2 linked regions of the Homo sapiens genome follow. The protein of the gene in region 1 purifies or fractionates together with the protein of each later gene. This does not show direct contact. Each region holds a gene or a part of one and is shown on either strand. Other genes may lie near its edges.

What was found. The genes of interacting proteins can lie anywhere in the genome.
Region 2: the proteins of CELF3 (region 1) and MKRN1 purify together in Homo sapiens (affinity purification with mass spectrometry; 2 studies listed by BioGRID and IntAct, with this or other methods). This does not show direct contact.

Annotation. Positions count from the first base shown.
Region 1 is NC_000001.11:151,715,479-151,719,227, reverse strand, and holds the start of CELF3 (CUGBP Elav-like family member 3), read left to right. Parts: upstream 1-2,424; 5' UTR 2,425-3,207; coding exon 3,208-3,352; exon of another isoform or gene 3,353-3,605; coding exon of another isoform or gene 3,606-3,609; intron 3,610-3,749. UniProt on the Homo sapiens protein: RNA-binding protein involved in the regulation of pre-mRNA alternative splicing. Mediates exon inclusion and/or exclusion in pre-mRNA that are subject to tissue-specific and developmentally regulated alternative splicing.
Region 2 is NC_000007.14:140,472,796-140,476,544, reverse strand, and holds part of MKRN1 (E3 ubiquitin-protein ligase makorin-1), read left to right. Parts: intron 1-2,055; exon of another isoform or gene 2,056-2,164; intron 2,165-2,717; exon of another isoform or gene 2,718-2,770; intron 2,771-3,749. UniProt on the Homo sapiens protein: E3 ubiquitin ligase catalyzing the covalent attachment of ubiquitin moieties onto substrate proteins. These substrates include FILIP1, p53/TP53, CDKN1A and TERT.

The DNA of each region.
Region 1 (3,749 bases):
GTTCACCGTCACTCAGCAAGGAGAGTCTGATGAGTGGTACAACTCTTCTCCTCTAAACCCTGCCTCTTCTCTCAGACTGACACCTTTGGGGACCACAAACTAAGCAAAGGACTGGACGCATTTTGCTGTCTGCAGCTGTCTCCCCAATTACTGACTGGGAGGAGGAGTGAGGGGAGTTCATTTTAATTCATTTTTGTGAATGTTTAATATTTCAATTAATATGATTAGCCCCAAGCCTGAATGAGCAGCAGGGCGGCAGATCTGCTGAGAAGACATAGAGTAATGAGATCAACAGGGCCATAGGGTCTTCCCCTTCTCCATCCTCAGAGGACATGATCTGTTTAGCATCTCCATAAATACCAAGATCAGATTAGAAGGCAAGGAAAGGAGCAGTGGGGGTGGGGTAGGTGAGTGGAAAGTTACTTTCAAGATGTGTGTGCCCTTCTTGATTCCCTGGCTCTGCCGTCATTCGCTTCTTCTGAGCACCCACCACTGAGTCCTCTAGCACCTCCCCCCACTGCCACCCCATCTTAGGGGACCCTACTTGGGGGACCCGGGCATCCATGTGATGAAGTGTAATCAAGTCTACACACATACACATTCACTCAAATGCAAGCACCTGCCAGAGCGTGGCTCCAGGCCACAACAAAAAAACAGGCTAAGGAAGGATGGGAGGTGGTCCACAGAATCAAGCAGTAAAAAGAAAGACTCTCTCTCATCCAGGGCTTAAATGGAGACAGAAGAGGAAGAAAGGCCAGACTTCACCACTGCTCCCATTCTCAAGAGGAATGTTTGATGTGGGAGTTAAATGCGTGGACTCAGGAGCCAGACTGCCCAGGCTCCAGTCTCAGCTAGACCTCTTTCTAGCTGCATGGCTTTAGGCAAGTTATTTCAGCTCTGTGTCTTGGTTACCTCCTCTCTATTTGGAGATGACAAAATCTACATCATAGGGGGGTGGTGAGGGTTTAGGAGTTAGTAAATATAAAGCACTTGGCACAAAGCCTGGGACACTGTAAGAGCCATGTAAGCACTGGCTGTTACTATTATTTCCCTTCCAGAAGAGAAGCCTGCCTGCCGTGATAGCTCAGGAATGGAGGCCCCTGGGACTCAGCTGGGACACAGTTTAGAGACACGAGTGCCTCTGTGGAAACAGCAGCCCTACCCCGGGGGAGAAGAAGGGAATGACAGGAAGACAGGGTGCTCTACAAAAGCCCAGAGCCCCAGGAGAGCCCCCGTTGCTGAGCACTGACAGAAAGCAAGGGCTACCACCACTGACAAGGTTTGATGTCCACAGATAATCCCTGCACTGAGGGCGTGCTCTGAGTGGGCCCAGTGCATGGAGGGGTCACGCTCCCTCCAGATCGTGGAGCCTGCCAATCATCCATAGAAGTATCCATGGTCAGGGGAGCAATGGTCCCCGAATGTGCCTCCCCTGCTCTTCTGTGCTACCTGGCTCAATTTGAGTCCAACTCAAAGAACCCAACTGAAGAAAGAAGCAAAGGAAAGAGTAATTGGGTTTCTGCATCCTAAGGGGAAGCTTGACAGCTGTGGTTCTTCCCACTGAAGGAATCAGGAATCCACTGTTGTCAGAGGTTGTTTGCATGGAGTGTTTGTTAAGCTCCTGCTACGCATGAGCAAGACAGGGTGCTAGACACTGTGAACAGTAAGATGCTGAATTAAACGGTGTCCTGGTCTTCAAGGAGCTTACAAGTGAGAGCGCCCGCGGCGCCGCCTCCGCGGCCTCCCTGCCCACGCACTTATACACACAAACCCCCCAGAGGGAGAGAAGGGGGCATCGGCAAATGCCAGAAAGCTATCGTTTTTCTTGGTTCCTTTTCTGGAAAATATACAGTTCTCTTTCTGCATTCTTCTCATCCTGCTCCTCCTTCTCCACGTCCCTTTCCATTTTTCCTCTCTGCATTTTTTCTTTTTCCCCCAGACTCTGCGACCTGCTTCCCTCTCCATCTATATCTCCTTTCCCTTCAGCCTATGCAACCGTCCTTTCTCATTTTTCTTTCCCCTGATTTCTTTCCTTGACTCTCTACTCTTGGGGCTCCCCAGATGCCGGGCTCCCCTCTTTCCCCGCCACCCCCCATCTGCTGAGTCTTCCAGCACCGGGGACAGCTCCAGCCCCCGGAACAATGGACCCCACTTTAGGGTTCCTCTATAAATTCTCCATCTTAGTGCTTTGCCCAACTCCTGACTGGGGAGTAAGATGGGGGAAGGGTTATTATCAACAGGACCAGCTGCTCTTCTGGGGGCGGGAAGGGAGTCAGGGAGGATGGAGATAGAAAGAGGGCGTGGCTCGTGCCTGGATTGTGCGTCCCTCTCCAGGGTAGAGAATTTGTATTCGACCCCTGAGACTGACATCACTGATGTCAGGGGAAAGGAGGTGGGAGTGGGGAGGGGGGTGTGGAGGGGGGAGGTTTTTGTTGAGGAGAGCGCGGCCGGAGAGCAGAGCTCCGGGACCCAGGTGACCGGGAAAGCAGGCAGCCCCAGCGGCGGGAGCAGCCGGCAGCAGCCCAGGCCCGGGGACTGGGGTGGGGGTGGGAGGGGGGCTGAGGGGAGGACCTGAAGGGGGGCGGCAGGGCAAAAGGGACCCCTGGAGCCCTGCCGCCATCAGAGATCAAGCATCTGGCATCAGGGATCTTCGGACCCAGCAGAAGGATCCGCCACAGGGGAGGTGTCCTCCCAGGGAAGCCAACGAGAGATTCACCTGCCCCACATCAGGAGTGGGCCCCCCTTACTGACGCTGCTGGCAACCATAGCAGGCCCCTTAACCCCTCAGTCTCCTCCCCATCACCCTCCTCAGGCCCTTTCCCCGCCTCCAGCTCTCATCTCAACTCCCAGTTCCCAGCCCTCTAAGCCCTAGCACCCCCGGCTACCACCTAACCCTCCAGGTCTTGGCCATACTCACCCCCATCCTGGGACATTTGCCAGATCTCTGGGAGGGAGATCGTTTGTTTAGGCGATGCCCCCTGGTGGCATGACAGCGTCTGCCTAGACCCCTGACCCCTAGCACTCAACTCCCTGGGCCTCCTTTGTGTGAAGAGCCGCCCCTCTGCTTAGCAGCGTGGTTGGGGGCCAAAGGGAAAGCCAGCCCCAGCTGGGCCCCCGGGCCCCACCACTTATCTCCTTGCTGGGCAGCTCCCCTTGGCCTTTGGGCCTCTCCCTGCTCCCCTCGGCCCCTCCTCCTGGGCCGCCTCAATGAAGGAGCCGGATGCCATCAAGCTGTTTGTGGGGCAGATCCCGAGGCATCTGGAGGAGAAGGACCTGAAGCCCATCTTCGAACAGTTTGGTCGGATCTTTGAGCTGACTGTCATCAAGGACAAGTACACCGGGCTGCACAAGGGTGAGGGGTCGGGCAGGCTGAAGAGGCTTCGGGGTGGGCTGGGAGGCTGGGGGAAGTTAAGCCAGGCTGGAGGGGTGGAGCGGCTGGGAAGGGCTGATGTGGAAGGAGAAGAGTTCAGGCCTGAGGAAAGTGGATGGAGGAGCTGAAAAAGAACTCAGCTAGAGTGATCAGGAAACCCCGGTGAAGGACTAAGGAGGGCCTCTTTTGGCTGAAGAGTTGTCAAGACGGCTGCAAAGATGTGGATCCCAGACATATGGGTGTGTTGATGTCATGGGATGAACTCAAGAAAGAATGGAGGGACAAGAGAGCTGGTTTGGGAGATAAGCAGCTGGGTAGGGGTGTGTGTGTGTGTGCGTGTGCAGCAAGACTGAGAATCTGAGCAGCCTCAGATAATATT
Region 2 (3,749 bases), on another chromosome or scaffold:
AAAACTTGTAAATTACCAAAGACAAAGTACTTAACAGAACACATGTGTATCTTCCTTTTTTTTTTTTTTTTTTGAGATGGAGTGTCGCTCTGTCGCCCAGGCTGGAGTGCAGTGGCGAGATCTCAGCTCACTGCAACCTCTGCCTCCTGGGTTCAAGCGATTCTCCTGCCTCAGCCTCCTGAGTAGGTGGGATTACGCCCGGCCACATGTATATTTTTTCTGGAACTACCTTATTCAATCATTCAGTAAGTAAACATTGCACGCCAGCAATGGGAGACACAATATTAGGTGTTCAAGAGAGTGCAGATGTATGTACTGTATTATAAATAAACATTTTCAATATGTTTGCTAGGTAAACATCACCTAAAGAATCAGGTAGAGGTGTGTTTTAGTGTTTGTGCTCATTTCTCCCTATAGCACATCACTCCTGTATCTAGGAATTTGACTAAAGCTATTTTCTTCACTTAGAAGTTTTGATTAGAATGTTTTTAATTGCTCGGAATCACCTGTATTTTCCTACTGGTTACATTTTTTCTAATGTTTCTCCTGGGGTTTTCATTGTGTTTTATACCTTTCCTCAGAAACTGTGTTATGCTGCCACCACCAGGCTGTTTTTCATATCTTTTATTAGAGCAATACTAAGAAACAGAAATGCTCATTGCATCTGCTACCTTGAGTTACCTTGAGTGTGTGAGGTTAGAACAGTTAATACTTAAAGAGAAGTTGTAATTTGAATTTAGACCCCTCTTTATTAGAGTGCTTCTATAATGGCAGATAAGTGTTCTGGTAGTTGAAATAATACACAAAAAAACAAGTGTTTAATTTTTAATTTTTCAAAAAACTCTTTTCTTGATTTTTATTTGTATTTATTTGTATTTTTTGAGATAGGGTCTCGCTCTGTCCCCTAGGCTGGAATGCAGTGGCAGTGTCTTGGCTCATTGCAGCCTCCACCTCCCAGGCTCAAGCAATCCTCCTGCTTGAACCTCCCCAGTAGCTGGAATTACAGGCACGTGCCACCACCCCAGGCTAATTTTTTTTTGCATTTTTGATAGAGACAGGGTTTCACCCTGTTGCCTAGGCTGGTCTTGAACTCCTAAGCTCAAGTGTTTCACCCGCCTCGGCCTCCTAAAGTGCTGGGATTACAGGTGTGAGCCACCATGCTTGGCCTTGAAAGTTGTGTTTTGTTTGTTTGTTTGTTTGTTTTCTGAGATGGAGTCTGTGTCGCCCAAGCTGGAGTGCAGTGGCACGATCTCGGCTCACTACAACCTCTGCCTCCTGGGTTCAAGGAATTCTGGTGCCTCAGCCTTCCGAGAAGCTGGGATTACAGGCACGTGCCATCACACTCGGCTAATTATTTGTACGTTTAGTAGAGATGGGGTTTCACCATGTTGCCCAGGCTGGTCTTGAACTCCTGACCTCAGGTGATCCACCCACCTTGGCCTCCCGAAGTCCTGGGATTACAGGCATGAGCCCCCGTACCTGGCCTCAAAAGTTTTTAAAAATGTGGTTAACGTAACTTAAAGATCAGCTGGGCGTGGTGTCTCACCCCTGTAATTCTAGTACTTTGGGAGGCCAAGGCAGGTGGATCACTTGAGGTCAGGAGTTCGAGACCAGCCTGGCCAACATGACGAAACCCGTTCTCTACTAAAAATACAAAAATTAGCTGGGCGTGGTGGCGGGCACCTGTAATCCCAGCCACTCTGGAGGCTGAGGTGGGAGAATCACTTGATCCCAAGAGGCAGAGGCTGCAGTGAGCCAAGATTGCACCACTGCACTCCAGCCTGGGTGACAGAGTGAGATTTCGTCTCAAAAAAAAAAAAAAAGAAAGAAGGAAATCCTTCAGAAATTCTTTATCTGAGTGCTGTGACGTCCATAGTGAAATTTATTACTTGGAAACTACATAGTGGTTGTGAGAGGAAATAAGTAATAAATATTAAATGGTATTAAAAAGATTATGCAACTGGGAAAGAAAAATTAATTTGCTATCGCTACCATGATTCACCATCACATCTAGCTGTCTTCTACAGCCTTTTATTTATTTATTTTTTTTTTGAGACGGAGTCTCAGTGGCGTGATCCTGGTTCACTGCAACCTCTGGGCCCCCCCCAACCCACTGCGAGTTCAAGCAATTCTGCCTCAGCCTCCCAAGTAGCTGGGACTACAGGTGTGTGCCACCATGCCTGGCTAATTGTTTGTTTTTTTTGTATTTTTAGTAGAAACAGGGTTTCACTGTGTTAGCCAGGATGGTCTTGAGCTCCTGACCTCATGATCCACCTGCCTCAGCCTCCCAAAGTGCTGGGATTACAGGTGTGAGCCACCGCACCTGGCCTAATTTTTGTATTTTTGGTAGATAGTGGGTTTCACCATGTTGGCCATGCTGGTTTTGAACACCTGACCTCAGGTGATCCACCTGCCTCTGCCTCCCAAAGTGCTGGGATTGTAGGTGTGAGCCACCGGGCCCACCCTACAGTCTTTTATTCTTTCTTTCTTTCTTTCTTTCTTTCTTTCTTTCTTTCTTTCTTTCTTTCTTTCTTTCTTTTTTTTTTTTTTTTGAGACGGAGTTTCGCTGTTGTTGCCCAGGCTAGAGTGCAGTGATACAATCTTGGCTCGGTGCAATCGCCATCTCCTGGGTTCCAGCGATTTTCCTCTCTCAGCCTCCAGAGTAGCTGGGATTACAGGCTTGTACCATCACACTCGGCTAATTTTTGTATTTTTAGTAGGTACCGCTTTCACCATGTTGGTCAGGCTGGTCTCAAACTCCCAACCTCAGGTAATCCACCCGCCTTGGCCTCCCAAAGTGCTGGGATTACAGGCATGAGCCACCGAACCCGGCTTTCTACCTTTTTCTAACAAGTATATATTATGTGCACAGATAGTTGGAGATAAAAAGGGGAATAAACCAGTCTTTACCCATCAGGAATTTATAATCTAGTTTGATAAATGGTATACTCACTCATTAAAAGTTAAATATCAAAGTAAGAAGTGTCACTGCAGATGAATTGATTAAATGCCTTATCTATTCTATAATTTGTAGAAATTCCTAAAGAGGTTGTTAAGATGCCTAGAGATACTCTGAGGGTGCTGTTTGGTTCTCTTGTACCCTTACAGGGTAACTTGGCAGTTTCTTGTTCTCTATGTTGGGGGCCACTATTAGGTTTCTAAGAGGCACAGCAGTAGGGGGATTCTAGTAAATTTTGTCTTTTACTGCACAGTGTCTCATGGAGACAGAGTCTGCACAGTGGAAGGAACTTCAGAAATAATATATGGCCCAGGTTTTCACCGAAGGCAAACTCAACTTGGGGTGAATCTGGATGATGTTTTTTTTTTTTTTTTTGGTGGTATCATTTAAAAACAAGACATATACTTATATTCATTGGTTTTTGTTTGGAGGAGAAATTCTTTGACGTAGACTATATCTTTTTTTCTTTTTCTTTTTCTTTTTCTTTTTGAGATGGAGTCTCTCTGTTGTCCAGGCTGGAGCGCAGTGGCTCAATGGCACGATCTCGGCTCACTGCAATCCCTGCCTCAGCCTCCCGAGTAGTTGGGATTACAGGTGCCTGCCACCATGCCCGGCTAATTTTTTGTACTTTTAGTAGAGATGGGGTTTCACCATATTAGCCAGGATGGTCTTGATCTCCTGACCTCGTGATCCATCCGCCTTGGCCTCCCAAAGTGCTGGGATTACAGGTGTGGGCCACCACGCCTGGCCCTTTTTTTTTCTTTTTGTTATGTAAGTTAAACAGTTTTCA